2 linked regions of the Homo sapiens genome follow. The protein of the gene in region 2 interacts with the protein of the main gene of each other region in a pairwise test. Each region holds a gene or a part of one and is shown on either strand. Other genes may lie near its edges.

Region 1 (7,890 bases), on a different chromosome or scaffold from region 2:
CTTAGGCTGAGCTACCCGGAGGCCCCAGGATCTGGTTCCTGGGCAGGAGTAAGCGCTAGCTGGGGAGATGATCTCGGAGAGTGTGGGATCCACGTTAAGGCAGGGGCGGCCCCCAGCCTTTCATCTCTTGGCTTTCTGCAAGGGAAGCTCGCACGTGTTGAGCGTCCCCTGTGCACCGAAAGTACACACATTATCTCAGTCCTGACAGCGGCACTTCCAGGCAGTAGACAGGAATTCATAGACTCGCATTCTAGAGGAGGAAACAGACTCAGATTATGGAATTTGTCCAAACCCCACACTGTTGGGATGTGAATGCAAGCCTGTCGGACTGCAAAGGGCTTTTCACTGGAGTTTAGGGTAGGGTAATTTCCCCTTAGCTTCTATGCGCACAAGTGCTGGGCCGCTGCAGCGTCACCCTCGGGAATGGCGGTGTCTTTTCGTAGAGGACCCCCAACAGTATCTGTCTGGAGCTTCTGTCATTAACTAGGCTTAAACAACCATTGCCAGGATACTGGTAAAGAGAATGAGGAAGGGGCCTTAGGATTCCACAGGTAGTTGGATGGTTCTTAGGAACACAGTTTAGGGGAATGTGTTGCAGGGCTCCTGTTCCTCATTTAGGTATTTGTGGGGGCTTCAAAGATGGCTCCAGAGTCACTCAAAGCAGTTACATGGATTACAGGAGTTGGGATTGATTGACTTTAAGAAGACCAGGGAGGCCTGGTGTGGTGGCGTAAGCCTGTAATCCCAGCACTTTGAGAGGCCGAGGCAGGCGGATCACCTGAGTGTAGGAGTTCGAGACCAGCCTGGCCGAAATCGTGAAATCCAGCCTACTGAAAATACAAAAATTAGCCGGGCGTGGTGGTGCGTGCCTGTAGTTCCAGCAACTTGGTAAACTGAGGCACAAGACTTGCTTGAACCTGGGAGGCGGAGGTTGCAGTGAGCCGAGATGGCGCCACTGCACTCCAGCCCGGGTGACAGAGCCAGACTCCGTCTCAAAAAAGAGAGAGAGAGAAAAAATAAAAAAGACGACCAGCGTGAGAGGTAGTGGGTAAGTGGAAGGAAGGGCTGACTCATGTGCTTTTCAGGCTGGGATGCTTCGAGGGCTACCATCTGTGTTCTCACTGCCTGCCCACGCCCCACATGTTGTCCAGGTGAAACCTGCGGAGATAATTAGGATTATAGTAAACATTTGTTGAGCTCTGTGTGTTGGGCACTGTTCCAAGTGCTTTACTTAATCCTCACAAACAATCCCATGAAGTAAGTCTTATTGTTTCTATTTTACAGGTGGGGAAAATGAGGCACAAGGAGATCACAAAGCTAAGTCCATGACTAAACTGGTTTGTTTGTTTTGAGATGGAGTCTTGCTCTGTCACCAGGCTGGAGTGCAGTCGTGCCATCTCGGTTCACTGCAACCTCCGCCTCCCGGGTTCAAGCAATTTTGCCTCAGCCTCCTGAGTAGCTGGGATTACAGATGCACACCACCACGTCCAGCTAATTTTTGTATTTTTTAGTAGAGACGGGGTTTCCCCATGTTGGCCAGGCTGGCCACTCTGACCTTGTGATCTGCCCGTCTGGGCCTCCCAAAGTACTGGGTTTACAGGCGTGAGCCACCGCGCCCAGCCCTGAACTGGTTTTGAACCCTGCCTAGAACCCATACTTACTTACTAAACTCAAATGTACTTAACACGATGAGAACATCGGCCTTGAAGGTAAAAATGCTGGCATAGATGGCAAAGAGGTGTGTGCTTGGGCAGCTCATGTCCTTTTCCTGGGTAAGGCAGGTAGTAACTCACAGCTGGCTGTGTGTATTTTGGCTCTCAGACTTCTTTTTAACCAGTGGTTCCAGATTTCTGGATTTGACAGAAAAACAAAGCCAGAAAACAAGTGAAAGCCAGGTTCCCATAAAGAGTTGCAGCTTTAAATTTACGCTCCCTAAGGGCATGGAGAACATACCTACGATCTATTATCACCATCATTAAAGAAAATACTTCTGTTTCTTTGAGACAGGGTCTGGCTCTGTCACCCAGGCTGGAGTGCAGTGGCATGATCTCGGCTCACTGCAACCTCTGCCTCCCAGGTTCAGGCAATCCTACCGCCTCAGCCTCCAGAATAGCTGGGACTACAGGCACGCACCACCATGCTGAGCTAATTTTTGTATTTTTTGTTGGGGGTTGGCGGGGTTTGCTTCAGCCCAGGCCAGGCTCGAACTCCTGGGCTCAAGCAATCCACTCGCCTCAGCCTCCCAAAGTGCTGAGACTGCAAGTGTGAGCTACCACGCCTGACCTAAGAAAATACATTTTAATTCTCAAAATAGGAGTGACATCATCTGAATCTGTTAGTTCCAGCCAGGCGCGGTGGCTCGTGCCTATAATTCCAGCCCTTTGGGAGGCCGAGGCAGGCGGATCATGAGCTCAGGTGTTCGAGACCAGACTGGGCAACATGGCAAAACCCTGTCTCTACCAAAAATACAAAAAATTAGCCTGGTGTGGTGGCGCATGCCTGTAGTCCCAGCTACTTGGGAGGCTGAGGCGAGAGGATTGCTTGAGTCTGGGAGGCAGAGATTGCAGTGAGCCAACATCGCACCACTGCGCTCCAACCTGGGTGACAGAGTGAGAACCTGTCTCAAAAAAAAGAAAAAAAAAAAAGAAAGAAAACAATTATTCCCAAGAAAAGATGGTCAATGGACTTTATGCCAACAAATAGACATTCCTTTGTCTTTAATTTTTTTGTTGTACTGTGGACTAGTAAAAATGTCACTCTAGGAATGACTCTGCCTCTAATCTCTCTGAATCATTTGAAGGCAGAACCAGAAGAAATGGGCCTTAGGTGTGGCAGGAGGGAGTTAGGTTGCAGCCAAGAAAGAACACTTTTTGGAGGTCTTTAAAGAACAGGTGAGCCTTACCTGTGCTTAGGAAGTGAGGGTTGCAGAATCGGCTCCATGGGATGGAGGGGCCAGTAACTCTGGGTCCCACCCTGGAGAAGGGCAGAGCAAGGACCTTGTCTTGAGGGATTTATTCTCAGATCCACCAAAGTAGCCTGGGAACCTAAATGACAGTTCCCATCAGGCAGCCGTTTTCTGCTCGGAGTTCAGTGGAGATGCGATGGGGTTGCATGGCAGTGGGGAGGCTTCCATGGGCTTCTACTCACCCCTCACCACAGGGAGTTCATGTAGTCACCCACCTTGGGGCTAAATAGAGTGCCAGGAATGATGACCCTTGAGGAGGGCTGAGGACAGGAATAGAATGGCCACCCAGGAGTGTTGCTTGTTCCCTGCCTGCTGCCTAGGGTGTACTGGGCCAAGGCTCTGAGTGGGCAGGCCTGGCTGGCCGCAGCATCATTGGAGATGCTGTTTCCCTACCTCCTTCCATCCTGGGTGCAGCCCAGGACCCAGAGCCTTCTGTCCCAGTTCTCCCAAAAAGGGATCAGGGCCAGGTAGGTGAACACCTGTTCTGGTGCAGCATGCTCAGCACTGGCTGTGGGCGTGGCCCTAGTTTGGAGCTGGCCACTTGCCTGTTCTGCAACAGAGAGTGGGGACAGAAGTTGCGGGGAGACCCTGGTGGGGAAGAGGGAAGGGTCTGGTCTCACCTGCCCCATCCTAGTGGTGGGGATCAAGACCTCCACAGGTGGGCTCACATCCTCTGGGGTGGTGGCATCTTCTGACTCCAGAGGACCTCACAAGCCGCCTCATATCCCTGGGGAGGCTGAGAGGTGATACTTCCAAATTTAGCTGAAAGGCACAGACTTACCCACATTTTAATCCTGGAGTTTTAGAATGGTAAATCCGAATCCCTTTAGGTTACAAATGCAGAAACAGACTAAGGCAAAGGCGATCCCTTTCTCCTCCAAGGTCACTCTGGTTAGAAGGGTCTGGAGCCCCAGTTACTAGATGCTGTCATTGTTCTGCCGCCAAGTCCTTAAAGAATGGCAGAACATGACTTAAACCACCTGCTAAGTACAAGATTCTATGCTGGAGATGCAAAGGTAGCTGTCCTCAAGAGCACTTTGTCAAACAGGTAAACTTCAGGGCAACATGCAGATGCTGGAAAAGGGTGGATTTGCCTCAAGAGTCTGTGCATGCTTTCTAAGATACTCCCCTCCTTTTCATCCTCTGATGCGGGGAGGGAACCCTACCTGAAGAAACACCCCAAGGCCCAGGGGTAGATCTAGGGTGGAGAGATCACATATGGGAGGGCCCGGAAAGAAAAGGAACAGGGTTGTCAATGGGCATACCCCAAACACCTCACCCAGAAATGCCCTAAGGCCCCAGCCCGGAAATGGACCTCTGCTGCCCTCTAATGGTGGAAAGGCAGCCTCTGGAGCTACCTGCTGGGGTCCCCCCTTAAAGAAGAGGAGATGTGAAGGACACTTCTGCCCTCTCCCCTTTTATTCCCCTTCTGTCTTATGCTTCATCTCCTGTGGTCTCTAAAGCAGAACCTTCTCTTTTTTTTTTTGAAATGGAGTCTTGCTCTGTCGCTTAGGTTGGAGTACAGTGGCGTGTCAGCTCACTGCAACCTCAACCTCCCAGGCTTAAGCGATTCTCCTGCCTCAGTCCCCTGAGTAGCTGGGATTACATGTGTGCGCCACAATGCCTGGCTAATTTTTTTGTATTTTTAATAGAGACAAGGTTTCACCATATTGGCCAGGCTGGTCTCGAACTGCTGACCTCAAGTGATCTGCCTGCCTTGGCCTCCCAAAGTGCTGGGATTACAAGTGTGGGCCATGGTGCCTGGCCCCATCTGTTCTCGAGCACTCCTGGCTGCCCCATTTCCTGACCACTGCCCTCCATCCCATTATCTCCCCAGTTTCCTTTGTTGCCTAGGTTCCAATTCTGGTACCCTGGTTCCTGACCCTGCCAGAGTTCTGGTTCCGGAAGGCCCCCCACAGGTGCCTTGGGCCTAGCTCTCACCTGGGCCCAGGGCAACACTGAAGACATGGGCAAGAGCATCCCCCAATACCTGGGGCAACTGGACATCCGCAAAAGCGTAGTCAGCCTGGCCACAGGCGCCGGGGCGATCTACCTGCTCTACAAGGCCATCAAGGCTGGCATAAAATGCAAACCACCCCTCTGTAGCAACTCACCCATCTGCATCGCCCGTGAGTGTCCGGGCCCTGGGGAGAGGGCTCTGCCCCAGGAGGCACCTGCTCCCGAGGCCTCTGCTGTGGGAGGGCCCAAAGGTGATGCCTCCAAGTTCCTCTTTCCTTTGTCTTTCTCTTGTCCATCTTCCTCAAGCCCACCCTGCAGCGTCCTAGGCAAGGCCCTGCCAGAGATGCTAGCTCAGGGTCCCTGGATCTCACTCAAGTGGATCCTCAGACTCATCTGGCAGGTCTCCAAATACTACATTTCCTCTGGCTCCCAGGATTCCACTTCTTGGAAACTTGGTGTCGGCAGCTCCCCCCATCCCTTTTCTGCCCTAGGAACGTGAGGCTTTAAGGAAAGGGAAGATTGGAGGACTTACTATATGCCCAGAGCTTCCACTAGTCCACATGTTCTTTTGTGCAGAGTAGGAAAATGAGCCCCTTCTGCAAGACTCTTTATTGCCATCTGCTGGAATATCATTGCCACATACTGGTTATGATGAAATACTACTTGTTACCGCCATATGCCAGACAGTTGTTAGAGTAAATGGACAAATCTATGATGGTACGTTATGGACAATACAACATTAGATAGGGTGCCCTTGTGCAGTAAACATTCGTTCAACTGTACATGGTGGTCCTGCATATGGCGAGAAGGCTTCTCCGAAAAGGCAAGGCAGCCTTGTCCCCAAGTCCCTGTCCCCTACTTCCCAACCCCATTCTTTCATCACTTCTGAGTCCACAGCCTGAACTGGGCTGGGGTGGCTGTCTAGGCCTGGCAGTCGAGCGAGAGCGGCACGGGCGGGACTCAGGTGAGCTCCGGAGGCTCCTCAACTCTTTGGAGTGCAAACAGGATGAGTATGCCAAGAGCATGATCCTGCACAGTATCACTCGCTGTGTGTACTTGCTGGAGGCTGAGGTAAGGGAAGCAGGAGGTCCCCCCTAGCCGGCCTGGCCCCTGGGGGTTACGGCCGATCCCTGCCCCTGGAATGGCCAGACTATATCCTGGGACCTCTCTCTGGCTGATAGCGGTGGGGGGGGGGTGTGCGGAGGGATCTTGGTGACATGGGGGGCAGTGGGCCCAGAACACCCGCTTCTCCTGCCTCTTCCATCTCTCCCCAATACTCCAGGCCTCTGCTTGTACTACGGATGACATCGTGTTGCTGGGCTACATGCTGGATGACAAGGACAACAGTGTCAAAACCCAAGCTCTGAATACACTTAAAGCTTTCTCTGGCATCAGAAAATTCAGGCTCAAAATCCAGGTGAGCCCAGGGATGCGTGGTGGGGCATGCAGGATGTCTATAGTCCTTAAGTCCTTTAATTGCCATAGGATAAATGGTCATGTTCCAGAAGTTTGTTTGGGTGTGAATTTGTAACCCAGAAATAAGTGGGAAAACGGTGGTCAGATTCCCAGCAGGGTCATGAAGGCCTTTGAATTTCAGGATGAAACTGAATTGAGGCACTAGTGGTATCTCTCAACCCCAAAGAGAAGGACCCCCACTACCCCACAAGCTCCCTACCACTGCCACGTTTTTTCTGACACCAATTCCCAACACTGGCTGGGTGTTCAACAATTCAATTCAGTTCAGACACTATCCATAGTTAGGGCAGACTTCACAGGTTAAGGGCTGAGTCCCCCAAGACTTCCCCCCGACTTCAGGTACCAATCATAGGTCTGACTTCTGACTGGCCCGCTATGAATTCGGGGGTTCCCACAACTCCCTTTTTAGATCTACTAATTTGCTAGAATGGCTCCCAGAACTCAGGAAAGGACTTTACTTACTATTACTGGTTTTTTATATAAAGGACACAACTCAGGAACAGCTAAACGGAGGAGACACATAGGGCAGGGTGTCAGGGCGCGGAGCTTCCAGGCCTGTTCCTGGACCAAACTGAGGGCTGGGCTGCTATTGCTCCTGGCCCAATAACGAGATGCAGATGAACTGGGGAGGAAGAGAGTTTTTATTTCTGTAACCGGTTACAGGGAGAAGGCCAGGAAATTATCGCTGGACCAACTCAAAATTACAAAGTTTTTCAGAACTTATATACCTTCTAAGCTATATGTCTATGTGTAAATGTGCATTCATCTAAAGACGTGATTAACTTCTTTTAATTTATAACTAAGGTCTGAGTCCTGAAGACCTTCCACTGGAGCCTCAGTAAATTTACTTAATCTAAATGGGTCCAGGTGCTGGGGTGATTACCCTTATTTTGTCTCTTGCTAAATCAAGGAGTTTTGAGGAATTCCTTCAGATCCCAATAAACTTGTTTGTGGAGACCTGTGGCGTTTCTTCAGATCCACAGTAAAACTTGTTTAATCCTAAATGGGTCCCATTAAGAATTCCTTCGTAATTTTGTCATGCTTTAAGGCCCAGGAAAGGCCTAGGCAAAACTCCTGGTGGGCTTTTGTTACATTCCAGCCTTTGTATAAGGGCACTGGCTTTTAACATTTAACTTAACCACGCAGTCAGTACTGAAACAGTTGTTATGGAGGCCTGCCACAAGCTCACTTCAGGAGTGCCCTGCTGTTCCCAGCACCTCCACACGTTCAGCAACCAGGAAGCTCTTTGAACCCCATTGGTCAGAGGTTTTTATTATGTAGTCTTGATGAATTAAATCATGTCCAGCTGCTCACCCCTCCCCAGAAGTTGGGAGCAAAACTGAAAATCCCAACCTTCTAATCATGCTTTGGTCTTTCTGGCAACCAGAAGCTATCCAAGGACCCTGCCTGGAGTCACTTCATTAGCATAAGCTCTGTTGTGACCAAAAAGGGTTGGTTTGCAGTAACAAAGGACACTGCTGTCACTCAGG
Region 2 (3,388 bases):
TTTTAGGAAAGTCGACTGGAAGCTCAGTTGGGGTTAGATAAACTCCAGAAGAGATCCCTCCCCATTGGCGGATCAAAGTGGTTTGTGGGCACAATGCATCCCAGGTGCAGGCAATAAGAGGAGATGCTGTCTGCAGAGAATTTAGAAACAGAATAAAGCTGAGTGAGAGAATAAGAGTCAGTCAGCTTTCTCCTTTTGTTTTGTTTTCTTTTGTCTTGTTTTCTTTTATTTTTAGAGATGGAGTTTTGCTATTTTGGGCAGGTTCGTCTTGAACATCTGGCCTCAAGCGATCCTCCCACCTTGGCCTCCCAAAATCTTGGGATTACAGGCATGCACCATCGCGCCCAGCTGAGAGTTGGTCAGCTTTTAATCATCACCATGCCCCAGCAATTCTACCCACCCTGGTCAGGGCTAGAATCTCCCTCCCTGGGGACCAATCCTCTGCCCCTCTATCCCTCCCCACACCACTGCCCCTTCCCAACCACGAGGGAGTCTGATGAACAACTCATTTTTGTTGGTTTCTTTTCAGTGTTTTATTTTTCAAAATATACAATTTAAGTTTTTATTTCACAACCGTAGTTTTGTATATTTATTCCAAAATCTTTAAATAGCTCCGCAGCAAACAGTACAAATCACAAGGTCCGTCAAACTGCTTCTCTTTAGCCTTTACACTTGGCGAGTTTTTTAAGTTTCAAGTAGTAATGGTTTGTGGGTAAGAAAGGAACCAAAAACAGGAGGAAACAACATTTTTTACATAAGCTCAACATGTAGGATTAGAAAGGGCCGTCTGACCAGCTCCTTGGTCTGGGACCAGACTAAGAACATGTATCTGGTTTATAAATAAGACCGTCCTGGGAGCAGTGAGGGTTTTGGTTACGAGGAGGAAGGGGCAGGAACCTCATCTGCGGAGGCTGGGAGGCAGGGGGAGGTGAGGCACTGAGAGGTGGCTCCTTCTGGGAGCGCCCGAGTAGGGGCCTGAGCGGGGTGGAGGCCAAGAATGGCCAGGGACGGGGTGGGGCTGCCACTGGTGGAGAAGCCTCCTCAGCCTCCCTTGGGGAGAAGGGCTGTGATTCTGGAGGCAGGGGAGGGACGGCAAGAAAAGCTGCCAGGTCCTAAAGCAAGCAGCTGGGACTCCTGCCAGCCACCCTGGGCCCAACGACGCAGGCAGCTGGCAGGGCCAGAGGGGCTGCCCCAGGGTCTGGGGTGGACTGTGGGAGGCATCACGCTGTCTCTTCTTGCGAGAGCTCTTTGTCCACCTCAGAGCCACCAAAGCCTCCCCAGAAGGGACAGCAGGGAGGACAGGGACCACAGATCCCACAGACCCACTTCTGACTGTGAAAGCGAGCTGTGCCGTGCAGGCAGCTCCTAGGCAGCCCATGAGGCTAAGGCACAAGGGTGACACAGGTGGCCACGAGGGCTCAGTTTTCTTCATTTCCCCTTGCGGCTGCTACCTGTGGCCACGGCCTGAAGCAGTCCTGTGGGCTGAGCTCTAGGCAGGGACGCTCCAGGAAGAAGTGGGTCACCAAGGGCCACCTGGCCACCAAGTGGATGTGACCCTCCTACCAGGGGTCAGGAGGGCGGTCCTGCCTCAGGGCCCCCTCAGCACCTTCCACTAGGCTGCAGGGCCGGACACAGCCCATCCTGCCTGGCCAAGCCAACCTTCTTAATGGGGTCTGAATGGCGGGTGGGGGTCGGGAAGGGGCCAGGGCCGGGCTGAGGGCAGGACGGAGGGGGTGGGAGTTGTCACTGCGTCTTCAGGTGGGGTTTCTCTGGAGTGAGGGTGTGGAAACAGTAATCCCACAATTTAGTGCTGATACCAAATCCTAGAGAGGGAGACAAACGGGGAGAAGATGAGGCATTGAAGGAGCAGGCGTGCGCTGGCTTGGGAAGGGTGCCAGGGTAGGGATAAGAGGTGGAGACAATGTCAATATCTGTCCCCTTGGCCTTCCCAACTCCCGAGGCCATTCTGGCAGAAGTCAAGGGTGGGGAACCTGTGTCTTTTATTGTCCCCAGCATGAAGCTGGAATAAACCCTAATTCCTTATCTGGCCTTCGTTTCTAGGCTACGTGGCCCCCTCCCACCCCCCACCTCCATCTCCTTCCCCTTCCTTGGGGCCCAAGTTCATTCCTGCCTCAGGGCTTTGCACCAGTCGCTCTTGGGACGCCAGATGCTGATTTCTCTTCATTAGGGTCTTAGCTCTAATGGCACCTCTGCAATGACACCTGGACCATTTAATCTCTTTGCTGTCCAACTAGCCCTTAGCCACACATGGCTACTGAGCACTAGAAATGTGGCTAGAGCTCCAGAGAAACTGAATTTCTAACTTCATTTAATTCTGATGAATTAACATGTCAATGTAAAAACTGATGCTTGATTGAGTTACTGGAATTTTTTTTTTTTTTTTTTTGAGATGGAGTTTCGTTCTTGTTGCTCAGGCTGGAGTGCACTGGTGTGATCTTGGCTCACTGCAAGCTCCGCCTCCTGGGTCCAAGAGATTCTCCTTCCTCAGCCTCCTGAGTAGCTGGGATTACAGGCGCGCACCACCATATCCAGCTAATTTTTTGTGTTTTTAGTAGAGAGGGGGTTTCAACATGTTGGCCAGGCTGGTCTTGAACTCCTGACCTCAGGTGATCTGCCCGTCTCGGCCTCCTCAAGTGTGTTACCGGAAAATGTTTAAGCATGTTTGGAGCAACTTACCTATGTGAACTACTGTTTGCAAATTTTATAAAATCTAGATATGGATCTAGTATTTCTAATGAAACTTTAGTATCTGAATTGAGATGTGCTGTAAGTACAAAATACACCTTAGATTTCAAAGACTTAGTATAAGAGTTGCTAATTATTTTTTTTTAAAGAGACTTTACAAAAAGGGTCTCACTCTGTCACCCAGGCTGGGGTGCAGTGGCATGATCATAGCTCATTGCTGCCTCAAACTCCTGGGCTCAAATGATCCTCTTGCCTCAGCCTTCTAGGTAGCTGAGATTACAGGTGCATATCACCACACATGGATAATTAAAACTTTTTTATGTAGAGACAAGGTCTTGCTATGTTTCCCAGACTGGTCTGGAACTCCTGGCTTCAAGCAATCCCCTGCCTCCGCCTCCTATAGTGCTGGGATTATAGGCCTGAGCCACTGCGCTCAGCCATTAATGATTTTTTAATGTTGATTACATGTTGAAATAATAATTTGCTTATGTTAAGTAAATGTTATTAAAATTCTTTTCATCTGTTTATTTTCATGTCTTAGTGTGGCCACTAGAAAATTTAAAATCACATATGTGGCCCACATAATATGTCAGTGGAAATCGCTGGACCCTCCCCCACCTATGTGATATTCCATCACCTTGCTTTACTTTCTTCTTCTTCTTCTTTTTTTTTTTTTTTTTAT

The links. Proteins that work in one complex are often made in the same cells at the same time.
Region 1: the proteins of FA2H (region 2) and ARMC12 interact in binary tests that used the Homo sapiens proteins (3 or more experiments, as listed by UniProt).

Annotation. Positions count from the first base shown.
Region 1 is NC_000006.12:35,732,178-35,740,067, forward strand, and holds the start of ARMC12 (armadillo repeat-containing protein 12), read left to right. Parts: upstream 1-4,854; 5' UTR 4,855-4,931; coding exon 4,932-5,094; coding exon of another isoform or gene 5,095-5,175; intron 5,176-5,821; coding exon of another isoform or gene 5,822-5,849; coding exon 5,850-5,995; intron 5,996-6,206; coding exon 6,207-6,341; intron 6,342-7,890. UniProt on the Homo sapiens protein: Essential for male fertility and sperm mitochondrial sheath formation. Required for proper mitochondrial elongation and coiling along the flagellum during the formation of the mitochondrial sheath.
Region 2 is NC_000016.10:74,712,447-74,715,834, forward strand, and holds the end of FA2H (fatty acid 2-hydroxylase), read right to left. Parts: intron 1,824-3,388; coding exon 1,744-1,823; 3' UTR 523-1,743; downstream 1-522. UniProt on the Homo sapiens protein: Catalyzes the hydroxylation of free fatty acids at the C-2 position to produce 2-hydroxy fatty acids, which are building blocks of sphingolipids and glycosphingolipids common in neural tissue and epidermis.